Homo sapiens: one gene and its partners. The protein of the gene in region 4 purifies or fractionates together with the protein of the main gene of each other region. This does not show direct contact. Each region holds a gene or a part of one and is shown on either strand. Other genes may lie near its edges.

Evidence for each region.
Region 1: the proteins of ARHGEF25 (region 4) and SLX9 purify together in Homo sapiens (affinity purification with mass spectrometry; one large-scale study listed by BioGRID and IntAct). This does not show direct contact.
Region 2: the proteins of ARHGEF25 (region 4) and PPP1R12A purify together in Homo sapiens (affinity purification with mass spectrometry, with the first as the bait; one large-scale study listed by BioGRID). This does not show direct contact.
Region 3: the proteins of ARHGEF25 (region 4) and POTEE purify together in Homo sapiens (affinity purification with mass spectrometry, with the first as the bait; one large-scale study listed by BioGRID). This does not show direct contact.
Region 5: the proteins of ARHGEF25 (region 4) and CCDC86 purify together in Homo sapiens (affinity purification with mass spectrometry, with the first as the bait; one large-scale study listed by BioGRID). This does not show direct contact.

The regions. Positions count from the first base shown.
Region 1 is NC_000021.9:44,959,556-44,965,841, reverse strand, and holds part of SLX9 (ribosome biogenesis protein SLX9 homolog), read right to left. Parts: intron 5,743-6,286; coding exon 5,674-5,742; intron 1-5,673. UniProt on the Homo sapiens protein: May be involved in ribosome biogenesis.
Region 2 is NC_000012.12:79,790,624-79,796,909, forward strand, and holds part of PPP1R12A (protein phosphatase 1 regulatory subunit 12A), read right to left. Parts: coding exon 6,159-6,286; intron 5,137-6,158; coding exon 5,015-5,136; intron 3,306-5,014; coding exon 3,240-3,305; intron 1-3,239. UniProt on the Homo sapiens protein: Key regulator of protein phosphatase 1C (PPP1C). Mediates binding to myosin. As part of the PPP1C complex, involved in dephosphorylation of PLK1. Capable of inhibiting HIF1AN-dependent suppression of HIF1A activity.
Region 3 is NC_000002.12:131,206,708-131,213,462, forward strand, and holds the start of POTEE (POTE ankyrin domain family member E), read left to right. Parts: upstream 1-2,828; 5' UTR 2,829-3,112; intron 3,113-4,320; 5' UTR 4,321-4,476; intron 4,477-6,755.
Region 4 is NC_000012.12:57,612,888-57,618,984, forward strand, and holds the end of ARHGEF25 (rho guanine nucleotide exchange factor 25), read left to right. Parts: exon of another isoform or gene 1-9; intron 10-42; coding exon 43-257; intron 258-376; coding exon 377-472; intron 473-552; coding exon 553-629; intron 630-806; coding exon 807-873; intron 874-1,128; coding exon 1,129-1,232; intron 1,233-1,443; coding exon 1,444-1,513; intron 1,514-1,628; coding exon 1,629-1,718; intron 1,719-1,801; coding exon 1,802-1,894; intron 1,895-2,079; coding exon 2,080-2,130; intron 2,131-2,349; coding exon 2,350-2,427; intron 2,428-2,624; coding exon 2,625-2,825; intron 2,826-2,949; coding exon 2,950-3,130; intron 3,131-3,396; coding exon 3,397-3,608; intron 3,609-3,896; coding exon 3,897-4,007; 3' UTR 4,008-4,358; downstream 4,359-6,097. UniProt on the Homo sapiens protein: May play a role in actin cytoskeleton reorganization in different tissues since its activation induces formation of actin stress fibers. It works as a guanine nucleotide exchange factor for Rho family of small GTPases.
Region 5 is NC_000011.10:60,845,561-60,851,581, forward strand, and holds the end of CCDC86 (coiled-coil domain-containing protein 86), read left to right. Parts: intron 1-2,363; coding exon 2,364-2,493; intron 2,494-4,379; coding exon 4,380-4,454; intron 4,455-4,645; coding exon 4,646-4,765; 3' UTR 4,766-5,521; downstream 5,522-6,021.

The DNA of each region.
Region 1 (6,286 bases), on a different chromosome or scaffold from region 4:
AGGCCAGATGGCTCCTTCACAGGCTGCAGACCCAGGCCAGGAAAAGCAAAGCAGAGGCATGTGGTTCCCGTGAGGACAGACACAAAGGCCCGCACCTCAGCAAGCCAAAGCCAGAAGCCTTTCAAAAGAAGGATACCTTGTGCCCAAGCAGGGTGAGCCCCAGGCATGCAAGGATGGTTCTCCCGGGAAATGCCTCAGGGTGACCCTCCACAGTGGCCACTCAAGAGGCAAGAAAGCCTATGGTCACCACCACCAGTGTGCAGAGGATTCTGCACAATTCACTGCCCACGCATGAGAAAAATTACAATGAAACCACAAACGGAAGGAAGCTCCTTGACAGATGAGCTGCTAGAAACCCACAGTGAGTATCACATTTCAGGGCAAAACATTAGACACTCAATGATAAATCCGAGCAAGGAAAAGATGACCACAATATCGACAATCCCACCCGGCCCACTCAATTCTGAGGGGGAGGGAGGGAGCGAGGCAGTGGCGGGGCGGGACCCACGGCCTGGGAACACTCAGCACTGCTCTCATCTGCAGCACCTAGGGGAGGTCCCACACAAACACCAGCTTCCAAGCAGCCAGGAGAACCAACGGGAGAGTGCAGTTCTTCTCTGTCAGTTACTCCGGAAAAATCGGATGCTGCCTCAGCTAAAATTTCAACGGGATTTTTAGTCAAACCTGTGCAGCTAATTCTAAACTTTATGTTTTAAAAACAACTAAATGCATAAGAATAGTAAAAACATTTTTTACAAAGAACAAGCAACAAGAAAGTAGGGCTATCGGATATTAAAGCAAATTATAAAATAACAGAAATTAACAGCGTGGCAAAAGTGCTGATGAACACTCAGTGGACGCAGGGCAGACCAGGCAAAGTGTGAGCATGACACGTGAGGTTAGATAAACTGGGGTCCTCCTGGGGAAAGAGTCAGAGTCCCTCTCACACTGTTCCTAAAAATCAGTATGTATGAATTAAATACTAAAAACAAAGAGGAATCAAAGGCCAAAAAATACAGCAGGAGCCACTCGACTGGATTAGAAATCAAGGAAATGTTGCACCTCATAGACTGGCAAATTTTTAAATGTTTCATAATATCGAGTGTTCGAGGACGGAGGGAGCTGATGGGTGGGTGTGAACTGGCCCAGCCGCCTTGGAGGACAACTGAGGGTTGGGAAAGTCAAGTGGGACATGTGTGTGGTTCCAACTACCCACCCTCCCGCCCACAGGGCATGGGGAGCCACTGTCCACGGCACGGCTGGGGCACAGGCTGTGTGGTGGAGCATAGAGGCGCTACCTGGGCACTGGGGAGGTATGTGGACAAAACAAAGCAAAGCAAGGGATGGAGAGTGACCGGGGGAGGCCTCCAGGAGTGGGAGGGCCCTGCAACGGGAGGAACAGCAAGGACAAACTTTGCAAGCTTGTCCTCATAAAGGCAAGGTGGGGTGGCGCGTGCAGATCCACAGGGGAAATTTCAACACATATTGGGGAAAAAAAGCAAATTGAGGGAAAAAATCCACACATACAGAAAACATGCATTTCTAAAGATCCTAAGGAATCTACAAAATGACTACCAGACCTAATGCATGATATTAGTAAATTCATAGGATACAAGATTAGTATTTTAAAAAACCAATTGTATTTTAACATACTAGCAGAGAGCTGAGAAAAAACTGCATTTATGACAGCATAAAAAACTATAAAATACTTAGCAATAAGCTTATTATAAGATGTAAGATCTCTACACTAAAACTGAATAACATTGATGATGAAATTTAAATGGTGAGATATACTATGTTCATGAATTTGAAGATCTGCTTTGCTAAGATGGTAATTCTGAACTGATCTATAGATTCAATGAAATCCCAATCATAACCCCACTAGGTTTTTGTTGTTGTTTTTAAAGAAATAGACAAGCTAATGATAATTTATATGGAAATGCCAAGGACTTAGAATATCCAAAACAACCTCAAGACAGACGAACCAACAAAAAGGACTTATGTTATCTGACTTCCAGATTAATCCTAAAGCTATGGTAATCAAGACAGTCTGGTTTTTGCTAAGGTACAACAAATAGATCAATGGAACAGAAGACAGCCTAGAAACAGATCCACACTTATGAGACTTTCTGATTTTTCACAAAGGCAACAAAACAATCCAATAAGGAAAGAAAAGTACTTATAACAAATGGTGCTGGAACAGCTGAATATCCATATTAGGGGGAAAAAAGGAACTTAACCACTAACACCACATAGACAAACAATTCAAGATAGAAAAAAAAAACCAATATGAAAGCTCAAACTATAAAGTTTTTAGAAGAAAACAGGAATAATATCTTCATGACTTGGGATTAGGCAAAGTTTTCTTAAATAGGACACACACACATACATATACACACACACAATAACTAATATAAATTAAACTTCTCAAAATTAAACTCTCGTTTATTTAAAAAAAAAAAAAAAGTTCTCACGCCTGTAATCCGAGCACTTTGGGAGGCCAAGGCGGGCGGATCACGAGGTCAAGAGATCGAGACCATCCTGCTAACACGGTGAAACCCCATCTCTACTAAAAATACAAAAAAATTAGCCGGGCACGGTGGCGGGTGCCTGTAGTCCCGGCTACTCAGAAGGCTGAGGCAGAAGAATCGCTTGAACCCAGGAGGTGTTGCTTGCAGTGAGCCAAGATCGCACCACTGCACTCCAGCCTGGCGACAGAGCAAGACTCTATCTCAAAAAAAAAAAAAAAGAAAGAAAATGAACAGGCAAGTCACAGTCTGGGAAAAACATCTGTAAAACACATATCCAACCAAAGACTGGACTCTAGGACAAAGAACTCTTAGAGCTCAATAATAAAAAGACAAAAAGCCTCATGAAAAATGAATTTCACTGACGCTGAAACACAAATGGACAGTAAGCACATGTAAATGCTCTTTTGGTGGCAACGGAAATGAGTACCACCGTGAGATACCATTTCATGATTACCAGACGGCCGAGGCTGAGGAGACGGCAGGCCATGTGTTGGCAAAGCTGAGGGCCAGGAGAACTCTCACAGGCTCTGGTGGGAGTGTGAGTGTACAACCACTCTAGAAAAGCGTCTGGCAGCTGCTTATAAAACTAAACATACACCTACCCTATGACCCAGCATTCCATTCCTCAGCACTTACCCAAGAGAAACGAAAACATGTCCACAAAAAGACTTGTAAAGAATGTTCAGAGCAGCCTTATTCACAGTAGCTAAAAATGGAAAAAAGCCCAGGTGCCCATCAGCAGGAAAGTGAGTAACAAATGGTGTATTCATACAATGAAATACTTCTCAGCAATCAAAAGGCATGGACTGCTGCTACATGCAGCCTGGATGGGTTTCAAAACCATTACGCTGAGCAAAAGCAGCCAGATGCAGAAAGAGTGCATCCTACATGATTCCATTTATACAGAGTCTAAGGCAAGAAAAGCTCAACTGTGGACGACAAAGGGTGACACAGCAGTTGTTACCTCTGGGGCCAGTGGGAGAGGTAATTGACTGGGGGGGTGCGTGACTGTCGGGGAATGGTGGTGATGGTCCATAACCTGAACAGGATTTCAGCTGCACAGGTGTCTACAACATTTGTCAGCAATCATTGAATGGCACACTTTAGATTTGCATTTCATTTTATGTAAATACAATCTTCAAAAGAAAAAGAAAAAAAAAGAACCATGAACTCTAGCAGAATTATTTGGGGTGGAGTGTACTGATGTCTGCCATTTACTTTGAAACGCATTTTTAAAAACCCATGTTGGTAGATGGACAGAAACTGCTAGATGAACGGTTATGTAATAAAGATTGTAAAATCTGTGTGGTGGGTACAGGGTATTCCCTATAAAATTCTTCCCACTTTCCTAAATAAAATTTTTCATAATAAAATACAAAGTAAAAGTAACTTGGGAAATGTAGCTAAAGCTGTATTTAGAGATAACTTACAGCCTTTCACTCCTGAACAAAACATATACAAACAGATAAGCAGAGTAACTGAAACCCAAAGAAAGCTAAAACGGGAGTGATCAAAATAAAAACAAATAATTTTGAAGACAAAAGAGTAGAATTGGTTATTAAATACATTAATTATTAAATGGAAGAGACAAAACTTCTTAATTTAATCAGAAATGAAGGTGGAGATACAAATAAAGAACGATAAAGAAAACAGAATATTTAATAAGAAGGCAACTAACATATGAAGATTGAGATCTGACTAAATTTGATCATTAACATTATTTAGAGACAAGGACCCACTCTGTCACCCAGGCTGGAGTGCACTAGTGCAATTACGGTTCACTGCAGCCTCAAACTCCTGGGTTGAAGCGATCTTCCTACCTCAGCCTCCTAAGTCGCTAGGACTAGAGGCTCAGAGGCATACACCACCTAATCTGACTAATTTTTACATTTTTTGTAGAGACAAGGTCTCGCTATATTGCCCAGGCTAGTCTGAAACTCCTGGGCGTAGGTGATCCTTCCATCTCAACCTTCCAAAGTGCTGGGATTACAGGCATGAGACACCATCCTCAGACAAATTCGATCATTTTATGAGTGGCCAAAATTGACTCAAGTTGTGAAAAAACAAAAAAAAAGGACCAAGTGCCATGGAATAAAATTTACACATCATCAAAGAATTACAGCCTAGAAAATCAGGGTCCAAATGGCCACAGTCCAGTAGCCCGTCCAAATCCACTTTCACAGCTATGCTAGGAACTGTGAAAAAGAAAATGGAGGAATGAATCATTTCCCTAAGAAATATCCAAAAAGGGATAGAAACCATAAAACTAATAATCACAAAAGAAACTGACAAAGTTTTCTAGGTCCTACCTCTGAAAAACATACATTTTCTTTAAAACCTCCAAGGAAAAAATAAAGCAGATAACATAAAAAAGAAAATATTCCAAATTAATTTCACAAAGTCAGCAGAATCACACTAAAAAGATAACCGAAAAATACAAAATAATTTTGACGAGAAACAATCTTAGAAAAACACTGGCAAATATCCAGCATCACGAAAAATAAGGAGATACTCCAAAACAACCTGAGTGGGAAGTGTGGCTTTCAGCCTGCGGAGACGTGCAGCTGGGAGCACGTGGCAAGGCTGACCTCAGAAAAGAGGGAGCCACAGGCCTGAAAGGGTCTGGGGACACCAGGGGCCCTGCCCACACCCACGCCGCTATGCGCAGACACTGTTTTCACCGCGGGCAAGGCCTGGAAGGATTTCACATACCACTGCAGGCACTTCTGAACCATAAAAACTCCACGAGCACAGGTTACTTCCACAATAAAAAATTTCACGGTGGGGAACAAAAATAGGTAATTTTTACAAACAAGGAGCCGAGAGCAGCAGCTTCCCAAGGCCGTCCTCCAAAGGGAGGCAGCCCAGCTCTGCAGGTGCCCACACGGACGGGGTGGCAGTGCCATCCACAACAGGCCAGACCAGCTTGGCCATGCTGCCAAGTCTTCATGGCCAACCTCTCTGTGCCTCCACTGTCCTTCGGCCCCCACAGCAGCCTCTGAAGTGTCTTGGGTGATCCCCTTGGGCACTCCTCGGGGAGTGTGGCTGATGTAGAAGGCCAGATGTGAGGCTGTAGGAATAGGAGGGCCCACGGGATGGGACTTGGGCCGGCAGCTGCCTCAAGACGCAGGCATGGACTTACTCTGCAACCATTGCTCACGCCTCAGCTTCATTTTCTCCTTCTTGGGCAAAACGGTCTTGGCCTCTGCACCTGAGGAAAGAGAACACGGGAGTGAGCAAAACGTGTCCAGGTGGCACTCCCATGACCTGAGAATGGGCTGGGGCGGGTCCTGACTGCAGAGCTGCCACAGTCACTGCAACTGGTCTGGCCTGTGCCAGCCTCTCAGACTCCCGGCTCTGGACAGCACCAGGGGCACCTGCAGCATGCCTCGGCCCGGCCTCAGGAGGCTCTCTCAGCAGCGTCCCCCCGCAGTGATGGCCTGGCCACTCACCCCAGCCTGCCCCGGAAAGCAGGTGTCCCAACAAGGAGGCCTCCTCCCCACTCATGCCCCGAATGACTGTCAGGGCAGTCATTGCAGTGAAGCCATGCAGGAATGCCCGACGGCTCATGAAGGGGGCCACGAACAGGACAGAGGCCCTTAGGGGGACATCCCCAAGATCCTGTGTGGTCACGTCAGGCCCAGCGACGTACGTGCTCCCTGCCCCCTGCCAGGCCCGACAATGTGCTCGGTGACCAGAGGCTTCATCCCTGGACCCCACAAAGCGGCCCTCTCAGGGAGCCTCCAAAAGTGAAC
Region 2 (6,286 bases), about 22 Mb from region 4:
TATACATATTTTGTTTAAAATTTACTTTCTCGAAATCTAGCTATATACCTTTAAGGTCAGCAATTAGGTGACAGGAAATTTAATTTTCTCAAGCAAGTGGTATGCTACACTGAAGTTCCAGAAAGTCTTATCTAAATCGTGAAATGATTAATAAGGTAAAACAGTCTTACTGGGGGCCAAAGTAGTCTTTTTCAGTAGTCAAATTTAGCCTTTTCTTTTTCTATTGAAATACTCACTGATTCTATAATTTATTCAGAATGGTTTGTTAAACTTCTTAATTTAAATATTAGTGATTTCCCATTATATTTATCTTTGGAGATACTGTAAAATTACTAGGTTACTTTTGGGATTGTTTAAAGTCTATTTTGGACTAAAAATGTTTTACTAAAGTCTGTAAATTTCCTCTGCAAAACCAATTTTAACTTTGCTCCTTACATTGTTTTTTAAGGTAATGTTTTCTTTTATTGATTTATTCTTTGGTTTAACAACAACTAACAATTTTAAAGAATAAATTTCAATTTTCAAGATAATCAAATTCAGTAAAATGGCCATTCCTGAACTAAAATGTCTACATATCAAACAAAAATAATACATCTTACCTTATAGTCTGCACTTACATTCACTGATTTAAATTTTAACAATAAAAAGTCTAGTGAGAAATCACTCAAATTCCATTATCTTTAAAAATCATGGTGTTATCACTGATTATTATTACTATTTTTGAGATGAGGTGTCGCTCTGTTTCCCAGGCTGGAGTGCAGTGATATGATCACAGCTCACTACAGCCTCGACCTCCTGGCCCAACTGATCCTTCTGCCTCAGCCTCCTAGTTAGCTGGGACTACAGGCATGCACCATCACATCCGACTAATTTCTTAAATTTACTGTGGAGACAGTGTCTCCCTATGTTGCCCAGGTTGGTCTTGAACTCCTGGGCTCAAGCAGTCCTCCCACCTCAGCCTCCCAGAGTGTTGGGCTTATAGGTGTGAGCCACCATGCCCGGCCTAGCATTATTTAAAAACTTTTAAGAATTGTGGTAAAAACCACGTAATATAAAATTTACCATGTAAACCATTTTTTAGAGTATATAGTTCAGTATTTTTAATTATATTCATATTGTTGTGCAAAAGATCGCTAGAACTTTTTCATCTTGCAAAAATAAAACTCTATATCCAATGAACAACTTCCTTTGTCCTCCTCTTCCTAGCTCTGGCAACAAAGGTTCTACTTTCTGTTTCTATGATACCCAAATAAAATAAGTGGAATCACACAGTTCTTGTCTTTTTGTAACTTGCTTATTTCATTTAGCATAACGCCCTTGTTCCCCAAATTTTAAGATTAATTTTCCAAAGTAAAAATATCTTTTTAAAGATAAAAAAGATTAAAATATATAGAAAGATATTCAGAAATATCTTTCTGACTATGGTATTGTAAAGTTCACATAATGGTATACAAAGTTCCTGTGTAATTCCTCATCCCTCCATTCTCTAGATAACCACTGTTATCTAACCAACCTTTTCTGGACACATAATATCTATGTGAATATAGAAAATATTGATCTATGCACATACATTGCACCTTATTTATTTATCTACATCCATTCTTCCTTTTTCTCATGGTATAGCAGTTACTAGGTTTAGGTGAGATGACACATGGCCCATGTTGGTAGCAAAATGGCTGCAACAGTTCAGTGATAGGCCCTGTCTATCCTAAGCCAACTATAATCCTATCCCTATGAGGTACATCAGCCTGAGGATGAAGCTGACACAAAGGACTGCAGAATATAACTGGAGTACAATACATTTTCTTTGTTTAATCCAGTTTGACTTAGGTTTCATATTGTTATTTATATTTGTTATATTTATTTATATGTTATTCATTACTTTAAAAGAACTCTAAACAATCTAAAGTAAACAAAAACTACTTAAATTGAAAATAAAAAAACTTTTCGTCTTAGAAACAATGTTCCTCTTCATCTTAACGTATCTCATATGATTTTAACAGTAAAACTTAAAATACAGTATACATCAATATGCTTCAAAATTACAACTTTAAAAGCCAGACAATCTCCCTTCCACTCCAGCCTGGTGGGGGCTGGAGTCTGCGTGATAAGGCAATGAGAGGTGTCAGATGGGGATGGTTTACTAATTTCCTCCCCTCTTGTTTAATAAAGAAGGGACATAGGTAAATTGGGGAGTTCTGATAACTGATAACCAAAAAATTTAGGTAACAGTTAAAGCTTTAGGCCTGCAAATAATTTAACCTCAGAACCAATTCACTCCTCATTGTCTGGCCACCTAAAGATAAAATAAAATTGTGGGGTCAAAATAGGCAAACTTGGCCCTAAAATAATGTTCACCGTCACCTAGCACAGGTAACCAACTTTTGTTCACATTACTGTAGATCCTTGCTGACTAAAAAGAAATGTAATAGCTCTATTAAGGAACTTCAACTCAAAATGAAGAAAATAATATTAATATGACCAGAATGCTATTTCATGCTAGACAGTGCCAGGTTTAGACTCGTGTTGTTCAGCTCTATCCTCATATGAACAGAAATATTTTGAATATTTTTTAGCTTTCTACACAGCCAAACAATCAGGAAGGGGGTCGGGGGAACTTTCAACCCTTGCTGGCTGTGCAGCCTTGTCATTCAAACTTGCTTTAGGTCCTTCATCAGTACTGAGAGGAAAAAAATGTCTTTTAGATTCTCAACATAAAAATCTGTTGGAGACTCTAAATTTCTAAATATATGTAAAAGAAAGTTAAAAGATGCCTATATTCTCCAGAACATAACTTTGAAATAAAATCTACAGAAATAAAATCTGAGCCTACTACTTCTGGATTTCCACTACTTCTGATTATCCTTTAGATATTTTCCTTTGGCCAAGGGTACTATTTCTTTTTTTGCTTTTTCTTTTAACTCCGAAGGTTAAATGACATACATTAAATTACATCCACTTAGAGTGTACAATTTGGTGAGTTTTGGCAGTTCTGTATATCCATAAAACCACTGCTAGGATCAAGACTCAGAACATTTTCATCACCTCCAAAACATTATTTTGTGACCCTTCCCAGTCCTTTTAATCCTGATCCCCAGGCAAACACTGATATTGCATACCCAGCATGTAGGTAGAGTATGCAATAACTGCTTTGCATGAATAAACATAATAAAACGCAATTTAAAAGTAATTATTAAAAAATATGAATACTTCTCAATACAAAAAGTAATGGTATTTACCTGAGTTTCTTTCTTATTGGATCCCTCTTCTGTGTCTGATTGTTGTTCTTGTTCATTTTCATCACTCTAAAAACAGATTGCCAATTTATATTTTAGGAAATTTTAGTAATAATTTCAAAATTTATTTTTTAAAATTATTTTTGGGAGTCCTTCTCTCTCAGAATATACATTGAGACATTTGTAGATAGAATGAGATGTCTAGGATTTTCTTCTAAATAATATGGGAGTTGGGAGATGGAGTGGGAATTTAGCTGAAAAAATGAATACTGGGGGTAGGGCTCATTATACTATTATGTTACTTCTATAAAGTATATGTTTAACTTTTCTATATTAAAAATCAAAAGAAAAATAGAAAACTATTTTCCGATTTCCCCATCTGTTCTTCCCTTCTTTGTCATTTATGTATGATTTTCCCTCTCTTTTTAAACTTTTTTAAATAGACATATGCACTCTTGATTCATCAAGTTGAATATATATTTTGTCCACAGCATGGACAATGCGAAGATACTAAAACTCTTCAACTCCATTTAATACTTTCCCATATTTTTGTGCTATTGTTTTCATATGCCTTAGCTCTTTATATATTTTAAACTGCAAATGACAATGTTATTTGTTTCATGTAATTAAGTAATTAGTAATTAAGTAAAATTAAAATGGACTGAAACACTGCAATTAAAAAAAAGTTCAGAAAAAAGTTGACCTAAATATGTTGTTTATTAAAAAAAACACAAATAAATTGAAAATAACAGAAAAGATATATTATACAAAGATAATCAAAAGGAAGCTTTTCAAAAAAGCAGAATTTAAGGTCAGATATAATATTAGAGATAAAGAGGAACATATAGTGAGAGATGGGTCAGTTTAACAGGAAGACAGATGATTCCATGTTCTTTCAGTGAAAGAATAGTTAGAAATTTTCTTTAAAAAATATTTTTATAACAATAGAAGTAAATGTACTGCTACATAAAATAGCATAGATATATCTTATAAACATAACAGTTATAAAATTTATAGTTCTAGTCATATGCTCTTCAAAAACAGGCATAGTTAACTACGGTGTTAGAAATCAGGATACTAGCTGACTTTGAAAATGAGGATGATAGGGATTGAGAGGGAGAACATGGGGGCAATCTACACTGCTGTTTTTATTCATCATTCTGAGTGGTGATTACATAGATATGCTCCTATTGTGCTAATCCATTAAGCTATACATGTATGAATTATGTTTCTAAACATGCCATACTTCAATAAAAGGTTTATTTTTTAGAAAATGGAAACAAAATCAATGAATAGCAATGTCAGGCCTACAATCAAGGACCAGGAAAACACTAATTTTTACAAGACTGTTGTAATTTGATAAGCAAAGCACTGTGTCTATTTAGCATGCTTTGAGATGGAAGTAATCTGTAATGTAGATCTTATAATGATATTTATGAAAATGAAATTAAATAGACTCCTTAGAAATTCTTAAAAGATGTTTTTACAAGAAGCAGTTTACCTATTATAAAATAATCAATACATGCACTCTGAGCTTCAGACATTATTATTTCTATTCCATAATTAGGTCAGAACCACTCCTTTTAAGTAGTACCAACAATCTAAGTAGTTAACTATCCTTAAAAATAATTTTTCTTATTTAACAACTCAGAAAACACAGTGATGATTTAAGGAATATGAAATCTAAGGCATATAAGAAATTATTAGTATGTATTTTTGGACACATTAAGAATACTATCAAGAATACTATCAAATAATGTATTTTAATAGGTTCTCACATCTTGTGTCCAAAATGAAACTCCTGTAGATCTTCTTTTCTCTCTTGGTCGTCGTCGTTCTCTGATTGATTTAGGTTGTGATTTATCTTCTCCTTCTTTCTCCTCTTCTCTTTTTTCTCCCTCTGTTAAGGATTGCAATGAACCACAATATAGCAATATATCTTGACAATATTTTGCAAGGTAATTGTAAAAACAATGGGTAAAATGGGCCAGGGGACTATCTAGGGGGATGGAAGGTAGGCAGCTGCTACTACTTAGCTCCAGCCAATTGTTGGTATGTGAGAATTCAGATCCAGTGTTGCCAGGTCAGCCAACTTTTCAAGAAATGGCAAAAATCTGAAGTTTGAAGTGAGTATCTCTAATTTTAAATGTTGGTTCAACATTTTTACAAACACAATGCAGGCCTCACACATAGAAGTTTAAAGAACTGAAACATCTCAATGATCAACATGAGAAAATATATAGCTGGAAATTGGGAAAAAACTTTATTTTCTGCTGTTTATTCTACATTACTACTGATATTATCATGACTAATACTGTAAGATTTAGGCTTTAAAATATGAAATGCCTATATTTAGTACTTATATCTGATTTAAAGTAGGAATTACTCAGAATTTAAATAGAAAGTTTATATAAAATAATAGGAAATGGTAATGAGTATCAATATGCCAATATATAGTTGAGAAAGAAATGTATTTTTTAAGAAATAAGCATAAAAATGTGTTTTAGTGAGAGCATTACATGTAGTTAGTAATTTTAGTTTACAACAATTTCACAAAAAAACATTTAAATGATATGATCTACACAGTAGGCAAGAAATAGCTTAAAGCATCTGAGAAGTACTACACTAGTAAACTGCTTCTAGAAATAGTCACCCACCAGTTCGATATTAACTTTTCGTTGTAGGTGGACATGAAGATTTTTGTGAAGTATTAGGTTATAAAAATATTAGTATCAACAGCAGGCCATATTCTATTTCTGTTTTCTACTTTTCTCATTCTCAACCTTCATATTCTTTCTGTTTAGGTTCGATGAATCACAAGTTAGGATGCTGTTCCTTTACTGTTGAATTATTATTTAGGAAACCCTAATCCAAAGGATTATATGAAGAAAGCAAAGTGTTTTCAAAATTTGGTATTCTTACCTCTTTCATTTTCTTTTGTTATTCCTCTGGAGTAAGCAGAAGTTATGCCTACAAGACTATTTGGCCTGTTTAGTTGACTTGAAGCATACAGTGAACTGCTCATAGTAGAAAGTGAAGAGGATGGAGTG
Region 3 (6,755 bases), on a different chromosome or scaffold from region 4:
TGTCTCTGTTTGCAGGTGACATGATCATATATATATACATAGAGAAAGAGAGAACCCTAAAGATTCCACAAAATCACCTACAGGAAATAATTTAGTCAAGTTGCAAGATACAATATCAGCACACCCATGCACCAATAGTGAAATACCTAAGAAGGAAATCAAGAAAGCTATTTCATTACCAAAAAAATTATATCTAGGGATAAACTTAACCAAAAAGACAAAAGATCCCACAATGGAAACTCTAAAACACAGATGAAAGCTATTAAAGCAGACACAAGTAAATGGAAAGATATCCCATGTCCATGCACTAGAAGAATATTGTTAAAATGTCTATATCACCCAATGTGATCTAGAGAGTCAATGCAATCCATGTTAAATTACAAAAGACATTCTTCATAGAAATAGGAAAAAAAAATCCTAAAATTCACATGGAAACGCAAAATACCTCAGATAGACAAAAGAATCTGGAATAAAAAGAAAAGCTGGAGGCATCACACCTGACTTCAAAACATACTACAAATCTGTAGTAAGCATGGTAATACCAAAACAGCATAATACTATCAAAAAAAGGGGCGGGGGAGAAACAGAAACGAAGGAATGACAGACATAGACAAGTGAAACAGAATAGAGAAATCAGAAATAAATTCACACATTTATGGCGTACTCATTTTTAACAAAGGCACCAAGAACACACATTCGGGAAGGACAATCTCTTCAATAAACTGCTAGGATAACTCAACACCCACATGTGCAGGAATACATCTAGGCCGTTATCTTACCATATACAAAAATCTGCTCAAAATAAAGATTTAAATGTAGGACCTGAAACTATAAAACTACTAGAGAAGAAAACATAGGATAAATGCTTCATGAAACTGGTTAGGACAAGGAATTTTCAAATAGACATCAAAAGCACAAGCAACAAAAGCAAAGATGTAATTACATTAAACTTGTCAAAAGCACAAGCAACAAAAGCAAAGATGTAATTACATAAAACTTAAAAGCTTCTGCAAAGCACAGGAAGAAATCAGTAGAACGAAGAAACAACCCAGAGAATGGAAGAAAGTATTTGCAAACTATGCATCAGCCAAGGGGCTAATACACAAAATATATAAATAACTACTCAAAAGCAAAAATACAAATAATTTGATTAAAAAAAAATCTACCCCAAATCTTTGTCTCCCACCATTATTTTCCCACCTTCTTTTCCCGACCGCCTTTGGCCTCCTCCCCCTCGCCACCCGTTTTCTTCCTCCATCTACCCCAAAACTTTTTCCCCACCATTTTTCCCTACCGTCATTTCGCAAAGCCTTCTCTGCTCTCTCACTCACCACCCTTTTCCCCATCCACTTACCCACTTTCCCCACTGTTTTTTCCCACCGTCTTTTCCCTTTCTCCCTGGCCACCTTCTTTTCCCCCATCCCACTCTCATCACCCTCTTTTGCTCCTTCATCTAAGCAAAAACATTTTCTCCCGTCTTTTCCCAAACCCTTCTCCTCACTCCTGCTGCTCACCACTTTTTCGCCCTTCATCTACCCGAAAACTGTTTTCCTCATCGTCTTTTCCCCCGCTCCTCCTTGCCACCCTCTTTCCCTTCTCTACCCAAAAACATTTCCCCATAGTCTTTTCGCAAAGCCTTCTCCCCACTCCTGCTCACCTCCCCTTTTCCCCCTCCATCCACCCCCCAGAATATTCCCTACTGTCTTTTCACAGTCTTCCCCCCTTCCCACTCGTCCTCTTCTTTGCCCTATCCTGCTTGCCACTCTCTTTTTTGCCTTCCATCTACCCCAAACTATTTTCCCATTTTTTCCCCAACTCTCTTTCCCTGCTCCCTCTCGTCACCCTCTTTCCTCCTCCTCGTTACCCTCTTTCCCCCCACCATCTACCCAAACACTTTTTACCCACTGTCTTTTCTTTCTCCACCGTCTTTCTTTCCTGCCCACTATCTTTTTGCAAAACCTTGTCTTCCTCCCGCTGGCTACCCTTTTCCCTTCCCCCACCTGTTACCCTCTTTTCCCCCTCTATCTACCCAAAACCTTTTCTCCCCACTGTCTTTTCACAAAACCTTCTCTCTCTACTGCTCAACGCTGTTTCTCCCCCCCACCACCCTCTCTTTCCTCCTCCCTTGCCACCCTCTTTTCCTCCTCCATCTACCCATAAACATTTTACCCACCATCTTTCTGCAAAACCTTCCCTCCCTGCCGCTCCCCACCCCGTTTTTCTCCCTCCATCTACCCAAAAACTTTTTTTCCCACTATCTTTTCCCCACCGCCTTTTTGCAACGCGCTCTCCTGCTCACTATCCTCTCTTCCCTTTGGCACTAACCACCCTCTTTACCCCCTCCATCTATCCCAAAACTCTTTTCCTCCTCTTACCGCTTCCGCCGCACTGCCGTCTCGGTCGCGGTTACCACCAGTCGCAGCGAGGCGAGCCACGGTGTAGCGGCTCCAGCCTCCAGCGTACGGCTGGTGATTACCCATTCCTGGTCCTCTAAGCCGGGCACTGAGCAGCTCCACAGGAAAATACGGGAACGTGGAAGAGCCTGACTTCCCTTCAGCAGCAGGCGTATACCGCGGTTATATACAGGAGGATTCCTGACTGCATGTTCTGATTGGATGAGAAAAACCCTCCAGGGTTACTTGGATTGGACTTTATTATCATGTTCTGATTGGATGAGAGCCAGTCTTAAGACAACCAATCACAGCATGAAAATAAAGTCCAATCAGAGTAGGCCTAGAGGTTTTTCTCTCATCCAATCAGAACATGTAGTCTGGGAACCACATGTGCGTAACCTCAGTACGTAAAGCATGCGGAGGTGGCGTCAGGTCATTTCAGGCTCTTAAGTGTGGGCGTTTGGTAACCGGCATGGCTGCTACCTGTTTCTGGCTGGAGCCTCGGACACTGGCTCACTGCAGTTGGTGGTGTCCACAGAGCGGTAGGAGGGCAACTAGTAGCGGGAGCTTCTCCTGCCAGGCAGGAAGACGAGTAGAAGGGAGCAGCACCGACGCATGCTGGAGGCTGGAGCCTGAGCCCCTGGGGCTCGCCTTGCTGTGTTTGGTGGTGACGTGGGACACTGCAGCTCGGCCAGAGTGGTAGAAATGTCCTGGTGTAGGTGAGTTATCCGGGGATGTACTGCCCGCCTGTGGGGGCAGGGGTTGGGTGTCCTATTGGGGCTCACTGCCCGAGGCTGCACTGCCTGTGTCAGGGGGCTGGTTGGGGGCACTCTCCGAGGTTGCATTGCTGGCGGTGGAGGGGGGCGGTTTTGGCTGGCTGTCCGGGGCTACACTGCCCGTGGTGGCGGGGGTGGTGGGGGGGAGGCAGGTTGTGTGCACTAACGTGTACTGCCGGTGGCGGGGGAGGGGTTAGGGGCACTATTTTCTGCTGCACTGCCCGGGGCAGGGAGTGGTTTGGGTGGTTATTTGGAGCTACAATGCTGGCAGCGGGGGGTGGTTTAGGAGTGTTGTCGGGTGCTGCACTGCCCTTACTCAGGGTGCGCTATCAGGAGCTGCGCTACCTGTGGTGGGGTGGGGGCGGCGATTTTGGGGCACTGTCTTGTGCAGCAACACCTGTGGCTGGGTCAGGTTGTGGGCACTATCGGGTGCTACACTGCCTGTGGAAGGGGTGGTTGGGGGGGGGTATTGGGGTTACACTGCCTGCAACTGGCACAGGGTGTGTTGGGTGTGCTGTCCGGGGGCTACACTGCCGGCGGCAGGGGTCAGGTTAGGGTTGCTATGGGGGCTATACTGCCAGTGGTGTTGGTCGGCTGCAGAGGTGGTGGGGACAGCAACAGCCATGGTCTCCTTGCTCCTTCGGGTAACTCTTCTCTTTTCCAGACTCCAGAGTTCCTGCTCGTGCAATCTTGAGCAGGGCAGGGCCCCCACACCCACTGCGGTTCTCCGGCCTGCACCTCCCGCCCACACCCCATGCTCTGTGTTGGGGAGACCACCTGGGACTACCGGGTGGGGATTAGTGGGCATCGCGGGGGACTGTGGGAACAGGGCACTGTGGGTGGAGGTGTCAGGAACGGGAACCAGCAGTTGAGTGGGGAGGGCTGGCTGGGTCTGAGTTTCTCCTACTCCTGCTCCCCAAGGAGTGCAGCCCTGGTGGGCCCAGCAATTTCTGGCCAGTTGCACCTGGATGGGGGTGGTTTCAGCATAGGCACTCACACCCGCCCCAGTTCCTGGCCACCTTTTGCCAGAAAGAGAGGCTGGACTTCGGTGGGTGGGTGTGAGTGCCTTAGCTGAAGCTGGTCCCTGCCACCCAGTGGCCAGCATGACAAGGTGAGGCTCTAACGTTACCACTCCCTGCATCCCATTCTAGGCTTTTCTGGCTTTGCCGGTCTAGCTGCTCCAAGCCAGGCTGGAGGAGGAGGAGAAGGAATCACCTGTGGTACGCTGGAGCCTGCATGTGGCGTGACTCTGCAGCTCGCCTCGTGTGACTGATGGCAGCCACGGAGACTGCAGCTCGACAGGAGTGGTAGGAGGGTGCCCGCGGGGGCAAGGTGGTAGGAACCTTGTAGGGTGGGCTGCTGCATTGACGGCGACAGCAACTGTATTGGCATTGGTGCTAGTGGTGGTAGTGGCAGAAAGTCTGGGGACTGGGAAGGGGGAGTAGGAGCACTGCAGGGCCCAGTCCGACCTGGGGTGGGGAGGAACCTGCTGGTGCTGTACCATGGGCCTCGGTGGCAGTGGTGGAGGTGCACTTAGGGAAAGGAGTCCTCCCCCTTCTCTTGCAATCTCTGGAGGGTGGCCTCCTTCTGAGCCAGGCATGAGTGGCAGCATTGTCTCATTCTTAACAAAATTTAGGGGGTGACTGTGTGTGTGTGTGTGTGTGGCTTTTTTTTTTTTTTTTTTTTTTTTTTTTGAGACAGAGTCTCGCTCTTTTGCCCAGGCTGGAGTGCAGTGGTGCGATCTCGGCTCACTGCAAGCTCTGCTTCCTGGGTTCACCCCATCCTCCTGCCTCAGCCTCCCTAGTAGCTGGGACTACAGGCGCCTGCCACCACGCCCAGCCAATTTTATTTTTGTATTTTTAGTAGAGATGGGGTTTCACAGTGTTGGCCAGGATGGTCTAGATCACCTGACCTCATGATCCGCCCACCTTGGCCTCCCAAAGTGCTAGGATTATAGGCGTGAGCCACCACTCCCGGTCATTTTTTCCTTCTTTTTTGTTGTGATGGTCTTGGACTTTTTCAAATTTTGTGAATTGGGGAGGGGATAAAAGGTGTCATAATAGGCCTTCTAATTCCTGCACCTGTTCTTTTTGCTTTTTCTAGTCTGTGTATTCTTCTCATCTTCTTGTTCCTCTTCATTTTCTTTTGCTGCTGCTTCTATTTCATGTTTCTATTCTTGTTTCTCCTCCTCTTTTTGTTTTCTTTATGCCAAGCAATGGCCTTAACAAACAACAAGCCAAAATTGTCACTGTGTTGTATTTTTAAAATAACTGGTCCTTTACTATGTTTTAGGGATGAGGAAAAAAATCAGTTGTATAATTAGTTACTTGAATAGCTATGCTTTCATGATTGTGTTAAACCACTTATGCCTAGTGTTCCATTATTGGAATGGTAAGCATGAGGGAGTTAATTACATCCTACTGCTCAAGGTCATTAGAAGGTTTGATTTTTCACTCGTGCAAAAATTCAAAAAATTGCAGCCTCTGGCATAAATGGGCTAATGCGTTATAAGTAGTTATTCAGAGAATCAAAAAATGAAGCATCACATAAAAATATTGGTGGCAAACAGCCATTTCATCTCTCTCACATATTTGGAGCTATGCAGGAGTCACGGGGTAAGTTCTAATTTATGAGATTATTAAGTGAACTGTATTGCCTTCATTTTCTCTGCCACCATTTCCTTTGTTTTCTTTCTTTTTTTTTTTGAGATGGAGTTTTGCTCTTGTTGCCCAGGCTGGAGTGCAATGGGGCGATCTCGGCTCACTGCAACCTCCGCTTCCTGGGTTCAAGCAAGTCTCCTGCCTCAGCCTCCCGAGTAACTGGGATTGCAGGCATGTGCCACCATGCCCAGCTAACTTTGTGTTTTTAATAGAGATGGGTTTTCTCTATGTTGGTCAGGCTGGTCTTGAACTCCCGACTTCAAGTGATCCACCTGTCTCAGCTTCCCAAAGTGCTGGGATTGGAGGTGTGAGCCACCACGCCTGGCTCTCTGCCACCATTTTCAAGAGTATTGCCATCTGCCTGAGCAAACCTGGTTCATCACCACCTCTTTGCAAGAGAAAAAGGAAGTCGGGAGAATTGTGTGTAATTTTTTTTTTTTTGAGATGAAGTCTCGCTCTTGTCCCCCAGGCTGTAGTACGATGGCCCGATCTTGGCTCACTGCAACCCCTGCCTCCTGGGTGAAAGCAGTTCTCCTGCCTTGGCCCCCTGAGTAGCTGGGATTATAGGTGCCTGCCACCACGCCCGGCTAATTTTTGTATTTTTAGTAGAGATGGGGTTTCACCATGTTGGCCAGGCTGGCCTAGAACACCTGACCTCAGGTGATCCACCCACCTCGGTCGGCTGTGTGTATTTTAAGGCAAAGATTCACAACCAAAAACAAGGCTTTATTAACTTTTGTATCTAAGAACCTGCAGTGTCGAGCCCTCTTTTATTCCTAGTATTACTACTTTAGGTGTGAACTTTTTATCTTTATTTTACTGATTCCTCTAGAAGTTTATGCATTTTCTTGACTGCTTTAAAGACAATCTATATTGTATCATTTTTCAAGCCCGTAGAAATGTGTAAGGCCTATAATTTGAACACT
Region 4 (6,097 bases):
TGGGGCAAGGTCTATCACCTCCTCTCTTTTTCCTCCCATTAGAATCCTATTCCATTGCGGGCAGTGAGGGGAGTATATCGGCTTCTGCTGCCTCCGGTCTGGCTGCCCCCTCTGGCCCCAGCTCTGGCCTCAGCTCTGGCCCCTGTTCCCCAGGCCCCCCAGGGCCCGTCAGTGGCCTGAGGAGATGGTTGGATCATTCCAAACATTGTCTCAGTGTGGAAACTGAGGCAGACAGTGGTCAGGCAGGACCATATGAGGTGAGCAGGGAACGGCACCAAAGCATGTGGGACATCTATGAAGGACACTGGCAGAGAGGGCAAGTTGGGGCCACCCAGCTACTGTCCCCGACCTCTGACACTTGATTTCTGGCCCCCAGAACTGGATGTTGGAGCCAGCTCTAGCCACAGGAGAGGAGCTGCCGGAACTGACCTTGCTGACCACACTGTTGGAGGGCCCTGGAGATAAGACGCAGGTGTGAGGACAGGCTCTGGGGAGGCTCCTTTCACTCAAGGGGCATTCGTTTGCTCACCCTAGGATGTTCTTTCCTTCCAGCCACCTGAAGAGGAGACTTTGTCCCAAGCCCCTGAGAGTGAGGAGGAACAGAAGAAGAAGGCTCTGGAAAGGAGTATGTAAGTGTCCACAGCCCTTCCCTGCAGTTGCACAACTTCCAGAAGACTGTCCCTCACATTTTAGATGGAATTTCCTCCAAGGTTGGCTATGATGATAAAGGGGAGGAGGGAGGAACGGGCTGAACCAAGGATGAGCTCCGACGCTGAAGTGGGGGCCTCCTCCTGCTTTCATCCTAGGTATGTCCTGAGTGAACTGGTAGAAACAGAGAAAATGTACGTGGACGACTTGGGGCAGATTGTGGAGGTAGCTCCCTTTACCCCTTCCCAGCCCCTCCTGCCTGCTTTTCCATCTGCCCAGGGCTATTTTCAGGAGGTGCCTGGGCGCTCCTCTGTCCCACCTCTCAAGCCTCCCCACTCCTGGACCTTCCTACTCTGGGGGCAGGGCGGCTCCCACCAGGGAGGGGGAGGTGGAACACACCCTGGATTTGTGTACAGGAGCACCATTAAGGTGGGGAGAGGGCCACCACATGCTCATGACCCAACCTCAACTTTCCCACAGGGTTATATGGCCACCATGGCTGCTCAGGGGGTCCCCGAGAGTCTTCGAGGCCGTGACAGGATTGTGTTTGGGAATATCCAGCAAATCTATGAGTGGCACCGAGAGTGAGTGGTGGAACTCTGACAGCTAGGTGCTGGAGAGGGGCCCTCATCTGGTTGTCCTGTATCCTAACATCAGCCCATTGCGACTTAAGGAATGTTTGGAGAAGTTTTGTAGGGCACACTACCAGGGCAGACAGCTCGAAACTGCTGGGAGTGGGCGAGGTGGGGGTTGTGAAATGTATTTGACCTGCTGCTTCTCTACCAACCCCTCCAGCTATTTCTTGCAAGAGCTACAACGGTGTCTGAAAGATCCTGATTGGCTGGCTCAGCTATTCATCAAACACGTGAGGCTTGAGGGGGCAGGGCCTGGGGCGGGGCTTAGGAATGGGCTGGGATTCTCTGGAGATGCGTCCTCCCTCCTTGCCCACCCTGCTCTCTCTTAAACATTACCCCTGTTAGGAGCGCCGGCTGCATATGTATGTGGTGTACTGTCAGAATAAGCCCAAGTCAGAGCATGTGGTGTCAGAGTTTGGGGACAGCTACTTTGAGGTCAGTAGCTGAGATGTCTTGGTGGGAAGGAGGACAGAACTGGGGCTTTCCAGGCTGCATAACCACCCTGTCCCTGTCCCCAGGAGCTCCGGCAGCAGCTGGGGCACCGCCTGCAGCTGAACGACCTCCTCATCAAACCTGTGCAGCGGATCATGAAATACCAGCTGCTGCTCAAGGTCAGGACCCCCTTTTTCCTGGGGGCACAGCTGGCTGGCACAGCTGTTTCCTCATTCATCTCCCCAGGGTTCTTAGGGCTCCCCCAGACTTCCTGAGGGCCCTCACTGGTGTCCTCAGGGGAGGATGTGAGAGCTTCTAAGGGTGTCCTCGTGACCTCCCTGAGCATTTCTTCTCTCTGTCTTAGGATTTTCTCAAGTATTACAATAGAGCTGGGATGGATACTGCAGACCTAGAGGTGAGGACCCCAGATCTTCCAGGACACACCATGTGCTCCTTATCCTCCTAGTATCTCATGGGTTCCCCCAGCCCCTTGGGTGGTTTACAGCTGTCTGGTTTTTAGGGGGAGGCTGGTTGGGGTTGAGATACCGTCTGAAGAGGCAACTGGCCGAGGAGGCCTCTTTCCCAATAATGACTCTCTTCGCCCAACAATGCGCCTCCCTCACCTGTGTCCCAGCAAGCTGTGGAGGTCATGTGCTTTGTGCCCAAGCGCTGCAACGATATGATGACGCTGGGGAGATTGCGGGGATTTGAGGTACGGAGATAGGGCAAGAAACTGGAGGCCCGATGCTCTTCTGCCCCAGCCCTAGCATTCAGGAGGTCCTTATGGGGAGTTGTCTTCTCCTGGGGCTGACCCCATGGTTGGTTGGGCATGTCAGGCGAGGAAGGGAGGAGCAGAGAATTGTCCTTTTTCTTGTTCTTTTTCCAAGGCCACTATCCTTTTGGTTTCAGGGCAAACTGACTGCTCAGGGGAAGCTCTTGGGCCAGGACACTTTCTGGGTCACCGAGCCTGAGGCTGGAGGGCTGCTGTCTTCCCGAGGTCGAGAGAGGCGCGTCTTCCTCTTTGAGCAAATCATCATCTTCAGTGAAGCCCTGGGAGGAGGAGTGAGAGGTGGAACACAGCCTGGATATGTATACAAGAACAGCATTAAGGTGGGGAGAAGGCCACGAGGGAGGGCTTGGAGAGAGAGAGGGCATGAGGCCTCTGAGAGGATGTCTCAGAGGAGCCAGGGAGGGCCTGAGGAATCTGGGGGCTGTCTCCTATCTGCCAATTCAGGTGAGCTGCCTGGGACTGGAGGGGAACCTCCAAGGTGACCCTTGCCGCTTTGCACTGACCTCCAGAGGGCCAGAGGGTGGGATCCAGCGCTATGTCCTGCAGGCTGCAGACCCTGCTATCAGTCAGGCCTGGATCAAGCATGTGGCTCAGATCTTGGAGAGCCAACGGGACTTCCTCAACGGTGAAGCTCTCATCCTTTCTTCCCGATGTGCTCTCTCAGCCCCTTAACCTCCTGAATCCCTCACTGCCCAGTCTCCAGTACCTACCCTCTGACCATGGCCCATCCCCTTTTCCACTGCTAGCTCAAAATTTGATAGAATCCCCTAAAGCCCTAAGCAATTGACATTGGCTGACAGGGAGGGAGGGCAAAGTGGGAGAATGATACAGGCCCTAGGGAGCAGACCTGTCTCTGCGGTAACCCTCCTTCTGTTCCTCTCTTTGCTCCAGCATTGCAGTCACCCATTGAGTACCAGAGACGGGAGAGCCAGACCAACAGCCTGGGGCGGCCAAGAGGGCCTGGAGTGGGGAGCCCTGGAAGAATTCAGCTTGGAGATCAGGCCCAGGGCAGCACACACACACCCATCAATGGCTCTCTCCCCTCTCTGCTGCTGTCACCCAAAGGGGAGGTGGCCAGAGCCCTCTTGCCACTGGATAAACAGGTATGACGAATAGAGCTCCCTCATTGTAGGGATAAAAAGGGGAGAGCCTCTCTTGTTCTGGGACCCCAAGTTCCCTCCCCATATCATTCCTTCCTTTTATCTGGTCCTTCCTACTTCCCATCCCTTACGCTTCTCCCCTCTATTTTAACTCTGGAGAAGCTGATAGTCTCAGACAGTCTAAGATATCTAGCAAGAGGAGGTGGCTTGGCTAGGGACTTAAACTGAAAAGAGAGAAGTGAGGGTAGATTTCTGGCCTTTTTGATCCTCTGACTTGAATCTTTTCTTCAGGCCCTTGGTGACATCCCCCAGGCTCCCCATGACTCTCCTCCAGTCTCTCCAACTCCAAAAACCCCTCCCTGCCAAGCCAGACTTGCCAAGCTGGATGAAGATGAGCTGTAACTGGTGAAAACCATGGGGGTGGTGCTGACTCAGCCGCCTATTCCCCAAGGAGCTTCAGGGCAGTCCTTCTGGCACTGCTCCAGAATTCCTCCTTCTTGGTGTGTCTGGAGGGTGGGCAAGGCTGGGAGGGATATCAACTTGGAGGAGAACACCTAGACCCAAGGACTTTTTTCTGCCCAAGGAACACAGTTTCCTTCAGCTCCCATCCCTATGCATGCATCATGGTCCCCCCAAAAGGAGGATATGTGGGTGGGTGGGAGGGCTGGGGCAGGGGCCAGATAGAAATTATTGGTTTTGTTTTTTAATTTTGTTTTTCCTGTTTTCTGAGAATAAAGGTTTTGTTATATCACCGAGGCTGCTGTCTTGGCAGAGGGAAGGGGAGGCTGTAGTGGGGGTAGGTGGGGTGAAGTGATATGGAAGAGATCGGTTGGCCCCAGCCATTGGAGGAGGGGGTCTGGTGAAAGGAGAAGGGGACAGGGTGTAAGATAAAAGATGTTGCTATCTTTGTCCCTCAACTGCAGTTGCAGCAGTTGAGGGACAAAGACTGAGGCATGGAACCACTGGAAAGCCCTTAGATTCTTCTTCTTCCCTTTTTTTTTTTGTAGAGTTAGGGTCTCACTATGTAGCCCAGGGTCTTGAACTCCTGGGCTCAAGTGATCCACCAGTCTTGCCCTCCCAAAGTGCTGGGATTGCAGCCATGAGCCGTTGCATCTGGCCAGCCCTAGATTCTTGATGTATCCTCTTTACCCAGCCCTTCTTTTTCCCTACCCACCCTCTGGTCTAGACCCCACCAGAAAGCCCAATGCAGTGTGACTTCTCACCATTCCCCCAACACCCAGATACGAAAGCACAAAATGCCAATGTACCTTTCCTTCTGAGGCTACCATGTTCAGCTGAGGGAGGATGGGAAGGTGGAGAGGATCCTGGGGGCTGAGACCTTTTCCTGGCTCTGGGTCTCCTTATCTTTGCTCTCTGCGAGGTCATAAGCCATGTTCATAGTGAGCAGAAGGGGATTCTTCTTCAAGCCATGGACCCAAGAGCGGACAGCCCAAGGGGATCTTCACCCCTCCCAACTTCTGGGAGAGCCGCTGGAACAGAGCGAGCCAAACATTCACACAGCCATGTCCAGATGCCCTGTCCTGGGTCCTTAATGCATCTCCGAGTCCACTGTATCCATTCGTCCCTTGGGCTCAGTCACGTGCACTTGGGCTTCCTCAACAGACAATAGACTGCTGGGGTGGGAGGGTGAGGAGGAGACCTGGAGCCTCCCTGTGGGCCCGAGGTCCCTTTAGCCGATAATAGGGAGGGATTCCTAAGGGGGGTACAGGATGTAGCGCCCAGATAAGACTTCTGCGGAACAATAGGAGGAACTGAAGAAGGGAGACCCACCCTCACTGCACCCCACCCCCCGGGCTTTGGGGTCGTGGACTGGGGGACCAGAGGATCATGGGGAGGGGTGCCGAAGATTCTTGTGAATGGGGGTGGAGGATCATGGCAAACAGCAGGATTCTGGAGTTAGAACCTTTATATTTCTTTAGGAACCATAGGGACACATGAGCGGGGTGGCTGACCCCTTTGAACTTAGTTTGACCACATATGTGCTTTTGAATGCCTACTTTGTGAACAGCATTTGTTTTTTGTTTGTTTGTTTTTTGTTCTTTTTGAGATGGAGTCTTGCTCTGTCGCCCAGGCTTGAATGCAGTGGCTCCATCTCGGCTTACTGCAACCTCCACCTCCTGGGTTCAAGCGATTATCCTGCTTCAGCCTCCTGAGTAGCTGGAATTACAGGCACCTGCCACCATAACCAGCTAATTTTTGTATATTTTAGTAAAGACAGGGTTTCACCATGTTGGTCAGGCTGGTCTCAAACTCCTGACCTCAGGTGATCCACCTGCCTCGGCCTCAAAGTGCTGGGATTACAGGCGTAAGCCATTTCACCTGGCCTGTGAAAAGCATTTGAATGTGATAAATGGTGCTTCAGTTTTTTTGGTTCCTAAGAAAAAAATATCCTGTGGGTTCAGTATTTCCCCTGAGGCCCTGAACTAGGCCCAGCCACTCCTCACAGAGGTGTGGGTGCTGGTTCTGTCATT
Region 5 (6,021 bases), on a different chromosome or scaffold from region 4:
GGAAGCAGCTCCTGCTGCAGGGAGGAAGACAGCCGCAGCTGGGAAAGTGTATGTGGTGAGGGAGACCTGGCTGCAGCCCTGTCTTCGTGCTCATGCCAAACGCCACTTTCTCCATAGTGCCCTTGGGCATGCTGTCTGCCTTCTCTGAGGAGTAGCATTTATGGAGCACCTATTACGTGTGTGTGTCGATTAAATCTCCCACCACCCTTTGGGTTAGGAATGATTCTCATCTCCACTGGACAGGATGCTGAGACTTAGAGAGGCTACCTTGCTCCAGGTCACCCAGGTTGGACTTGGAACCCAGGCCTGAGTTTCCTCAATACCCAGGTAGAACCAATGGTCTGGAACTGCCCTGCCTCAGTACCTTAGCCGCCAGCCACATGTGGCTATGTACATTTAAATTAATTAAAATTAAATAAAATTTAAGATTCAGTTTCTCTATCAACACCAACCACATTTCTAGCGCTCAGCAGCCACCCATGACTAGTGGCTACCTTATTGGACAGTGTCAATGTGGAATGTTTCCACCATCACAGAACGTTCTGTTTGACAGCCCTGCTCTACACAGATGCAGCACTGTGTCTTGTGGTTCTGTGTGTCTCTAGGCTCCCAACACCTTGTCCCTTCAGGGTTCTCGTACCCCAGCTTGGGAAGCCCAGCTTTACAGTTATGGGGGAAGTCCATGTGGCACCCCATTCTTAGTGCTTAGGAGGCCAGGCCTTCAGTGGCAAGGCCTTGGGAAGGGGAGAAGGAAATCAGGGAGCTGGGGCCAGAAGTCGGCAGGGCCAAGGGACACCAAAATGGGCCTTGAATCTTTAAAAGAGAAAGACCTAATTTCAGCATGTGGAGGCCACCGAGAGACTTCTTTGCATTTTGTTTTTACTTTTTTTGAATGGAAATTTTCAAGCATACAAAGAAAGAGCAAAGCTCTCAAGTCCCCATTATCAGCATCAACACAGCTCAGCATTTTACTAGTGTAGCTTCATCTTTGATACTTGGCTTTTTTTTCTTTTTTTCTTTTTTTTTGTTTTGAGACGGAGTTTCATTCTTGTTGCCCAGGCCAGAGTGCAATGGAGCAATCTCGGCTCACCGCAACCTCCGCCTCCTGGGTTCAAGCGATTCTCCTGCCTCAGCCTCCCAAGTAGCTGGGATTACAGGTGTGTGCCACCACACCCAGCTAATTTTGTATTTTTAGTAGAGACAGGGTTTCTCCATGTTGGTCAAGCTGGTCTCGAACTCCCGACCTTAGGTGATCGGCCCACCTCAGCCTCCCAAAGTGCTGGGATTACAGGCGTGAGCCACTGCGCCCGGCTGATCTTTGGCATTTTTTTTTCCCTGAAATATTTTAAAGTACATCCTAGACATATCATCCCATTCATAAATCCTTGTAGTATGCATTTTTACAGAGATGAGCTCAGTTCTCCTGTAACTCTAAAATCATCGTTGCTCTTTTCAGATTTCCCTGAGAGCCCTGATGCCCACTTCATCTCCAACTGGGGGAAGAGATTCTTTTTCTTTTTTCTTTTTTCTTTTTTTTTTTTGAGACAGAGTCTTGCTCTGTCACCCAGGCTGGAGTGCAGTGGCGCGATCTCGGCTCACTGCAACCTCCACCTCCCAGGTTCAAGCAATTGTTGTACCTCAGCCTCCCAAGTAGCTGGGACTATAGGCATACACCATCACACCCAGCTAATTTTTGTATTTTTAGTAGAAACTTTAGTAGGTTTTAGTAGGCTTAGTAGGTTTTGCCATGTTTGCCCGGCTGGTCTCCAACTCCTGGACTCACGTGGTCTGCCCACCTTGGCCTCCCAAAGTGCTGGGATTACAAGCATGACCACTGCATCCGGTCTTGGCGGGGAAGATCCTGAATCATTACCCAGAACTTTAACCACTCACACTGTTCTGAAATGGAATGGGCCACCTCCCTAGGGGGTGAGCGCCCCGCCTCCAGAGGCATTCACACCCGGGCCAAATGCACTTGGCGGAAGCAACAGAACTTTACAGCAGGGGCCGCGTAGCCTGGACTCTGCAGTCGCTGACAGGATTCAAGTCCTGACTGCCACAAGGTATCTTTAGGCAGCTATTTAACCTCTCCGCGCCTTGGCCTGCTCCTCTGTAAGTGGAGAGGATAGGAGTACCCACCTCAGAGGCATGTAGCCAAGGCTTGAGAAATGGCAGCCAGCACGATCAGGGTTCCCTCCCGCCCCAAGTTTCTGCAGCCCTGGAAGGCCGCCTGTCAGGCCAGCAAGGAGGTGGTTCTGCCTGGGCTCTGGGGAAGAAGGTCCAGAGCCTCCGGCCGAGAGGAGACAGGGCATGGGTGGCGCTTGCCCCACAGACCCTGTATGCACCCACTCTCCCCCTTTCAGATTCTCCCAGATGCTTCAGGACAAGCCCCTGCGCACATCGTGGCAGCGGAAGATGAAGGAACGACAGGAGAGGAAGCTGGCCAAGGACTTTGCCCGTCACCTGGAGGAGGAGAAGGAGAGGCGCCGCCAGGTGAGGGGCCAGCCAGGCTGAGGCTGGGGCTCAGAGGACTAAGCTAGTGTCTACTGGTACAGACCTGAGGCGAGGGCCTCCACGGGTGCCTGGGGGAGGCCGACTTGGTTAAAAAACGTTCTTGAATCTGAAGGCCGGAGGGAGGAAGGGCACCTGGCCAGAAGCAGAAGTGCAATCTGGGACTACAGGGCAGGGAGGCCCAGGGGACCATACAGTTTAGCCTGGGCTGCTGAAAGAGCCTCAGGGACAGGGACGGAGGGGGAGGACCAGAAGCGGGCCTTGGGGAGAAGCCCGGGAGGAAGTCCTGGGTGGTAGGGCAGTCAGTGAGATGGGGTCGAGGGCCCTTTGCTGGGACGTACTCAGTTGGGAAGGGCTTGCAGATTTGAACTCCATGTCCCCGGTATGGCTGCTGTCATTCTCCAAGAAGCAGCCCACACACCAGCAACGTGGATGGCCCCCGCACCTTTCCTCCACTTCTGTCCCCTGTCACCCATCCCAGAGCCAGGAAGCCCCTGTAAAGGGTCACAGCCTCACCCACATCTGCCAGGGACTTTTAAGCGGGGGGAAGAGGGCACTCAGCAGGCAGCATGCAGAGAAAGCGGAGTGGCATTGGTCAGCTCCTGCCCCCCAGGGCAGGGCAGTCAGTGGGAGATTCCTCCTCCACTCCTCTAATGACCCAGGCGTGTAGGAGGAGTGCCGAACGGGATTCAGACAACTCATCCATAGTCCGTGGTCCCAGGCTGGCCACTGAGAAAAGGGGTGGGCCAGTCACTCAGTCATCTGTCCCCTGCTCTAAGTCACCCCAGCTCAGCTTACAGCTGACATCTGAGGAACAGTGTGTCCGCCACCATATGCTGAGGCCTTATCTCTTTTCCTGTGTGGCCCTGGCTCCCTCTTGGGCAAGACAGAGCTGCCGTCTCACTTCTCACCGTCCACTGCGGAGGTGCTCCTGCCCAGCCCCCAGCCCGGGCCTGCCCTGACCACAGGAGGCCAAGGCTCACTTCTCCTTCCTCCCCAGGGGCCTGGGCCACCCCTGCTACCCCAAGTCACCAAAGCCAGCAGAGACTCCTAACCATGCAGCAGCCTTGGAGCTGACGTCCCCACCCTGGCCTTGCTGAGGGACACAGTCAGCATGGCTAGAGAGCACTGGGCTTCCCCTCCCAAGACAGACTCCATCTAGAGTCTCAGTGTGCCCAAGGAGCTAGGGGCTGCTCCAAGTCCTGCACGTGCATTCCCTCATTGATTTCCCAAAACTATCTTACGAGGTAGATACTGTGGTCACTGTCACTTTAAAGATGAAGAAGCTGAGGCACAGACTTAGCTAAGGTCTCCTGTTTAGGAAATAACAGGATCCAGATTGAAACCCAGCCCAGATAGCTCCAGAGCCTTTTCTGTGCAGTGCAGCCCCTGCCCAGCCCCACACCTGTGAAAATCTCAGGGACCCAGCCCTCACCCCTAGCCTGGCATTCTGCAGCAGCAGGACTCCAGGGGAAGAGGGGGAGACTGTCGGAGAGGGTGGGAATGGGGGAAGGGCCAGCACCCCTTTCTCCCTTGGCAGTTGATGAGGGTGGCATGAGGGGTCACTGTCTGCATGTGCGTGAATCTCCAGGTGGGCACCCCCAGTGTCTCAGCCCCTGTCCTCAGTTGCCTGTCCCATACCCACCTCTCAACATGCTATCAGGAGCTTCCACCACAGCAGGCCCCTGGCACTAGACCGTGGCACAGGATTGCTAGCCCTCCACCCACACATCACCAACCTGGAGCCTGGCAGAGAGGGCCTTTCCCCTTCCTCCTGGGAATTCTGCCCGCTCGCACTCTTCTGGGGCCTGAGAGACCAGGGCTGCCTCTGCTCCCCGACTCAAATCCCCTTCTCCCACATGTTCCAGGAGAAGAAACAGCGCCGGGCTGAGAACCTGAAACGCCGCCTGGAGAATGAGCGGAAGGCAGAGGTCGTCCAAGTGGTGAGTGTCTCGTTTTCCCCCTCTGCCCTTCTGCCCCACTTGGGGGTGCAAACCAGGGCCTCGACCCCTGCCTCATGTACCCCCACTCTCATGCTACGATCTCAGGCCCCTGTGGGGCGGCCTTCCTCTCCCCTGGGAATTTGGACCGAGGCTGCAGCTGCACTAATGTCCTCCCCTCATACCACCCCCAGATCCGAAACCCCGCCAAGCTCAAGCGGGCAAAGAAGAAGCAGCTGCGCTCCATTGAGAAGCGGGACACCCTGGCCCTGCTGCAGAAGCAGCCGCCCCAGCAGCCGGCAGCCAAGATCTGAGCTCAGGACGGCCCGAGGCCTTCCATGGCCAACAACCATGTCAGACACAGCACCTCAGGCCGCTGCTCAGATGCCTCTGCTGGAGCTGGCACTCCAAACCCATGGCTCCAGAACAGGGACCCCCACCCCGACCGGGGCTCCTCGGCCTTTGAAGGCTTCCAGGCAGGTCTGTGTGGGACAGAAGCCCAGAGGGGGCCTGGGACCTGGCAGAGATGGGGGCGGGAAGAGATTCAGCTCCCATCCCTCCTTCCTCTCCTTCTCCAAGTGCCTTCAAACCAAGAACTGTACATTCTTCTGGTTCCTCAGTGAGCTGGTGACTGGCAGGTGACTCCCTCAGCAGTGTATGCCCTTTCTCAGCATCCTAGGTCCATCCCAGGCCTGGAGGCTGACAGTTGGGAATCCAGCTTCCCCCACACCTTCCCAAAGGCTGCTCTGAGCACCTCCACACCCCACTGCCTCTGTCCCCAGCAGACTGAATCCGGTTCCTCTCCACTTTTCAATACTGAAAGATTAAAATGGGGAGGTTGCAGGGAGCAGAGCTTTTCCCTAGCACCCACTTTCCCAAACCAGTCTCTGCAGAAGCCCCAGAGAATCTAACTCATGCCTGTCCAGTCTACAGCAAAAATATTTATTGAGTGCCTGTTGCATACAGGCACAATCCTAGGCACCGGCAAATACAGACAATAGACCAAAGTCCCTGCCCTCGAGGAGCTTTCATTCTGATGGAGAGAAAACATAATAAACAAGCAAAATGCACCACGTGTCCAATGGGGGAAGTGCTATGAGTAAAGGGGGAAGGGATGGGAGGGAGCAGGGGCGAGGTGTCAACACAGGGTGGCTCTGCAGCTAGCTGGGCACCTCACTGTTCCCTTTGCTCAGCACCTGCTGTGGGCCAGGCCTTCAGTGACCCTGGCCTTTGGTGGCAGAAAAAACACAGGACCAAGATCTCAAGAGTTTCTCATCTGCTTCTTCCACTGACATTTCATCCACCAAGCAAAATTCATTGACACCAACTTTTCGGTCCCTGGGCTGCAGAGCTCAAACACAGCAGTCTCTGACCCCAAGTCCACGGCAGGTGGAGGAATGAGACGGGGTGCAGTGGAAGTGATAGGTCAGAGGTGCAAGTTACCCCTCCCATCCGCAAAAGGGAAATGGTAGCTGCCCAGCCCCATGTGGCCTGGAGGCGGGGCTGCACAGATCTTGGGATTACCAGTGCCCAGAGGGATCCCACAGAACACCAGGCCGACAGGGAGGCT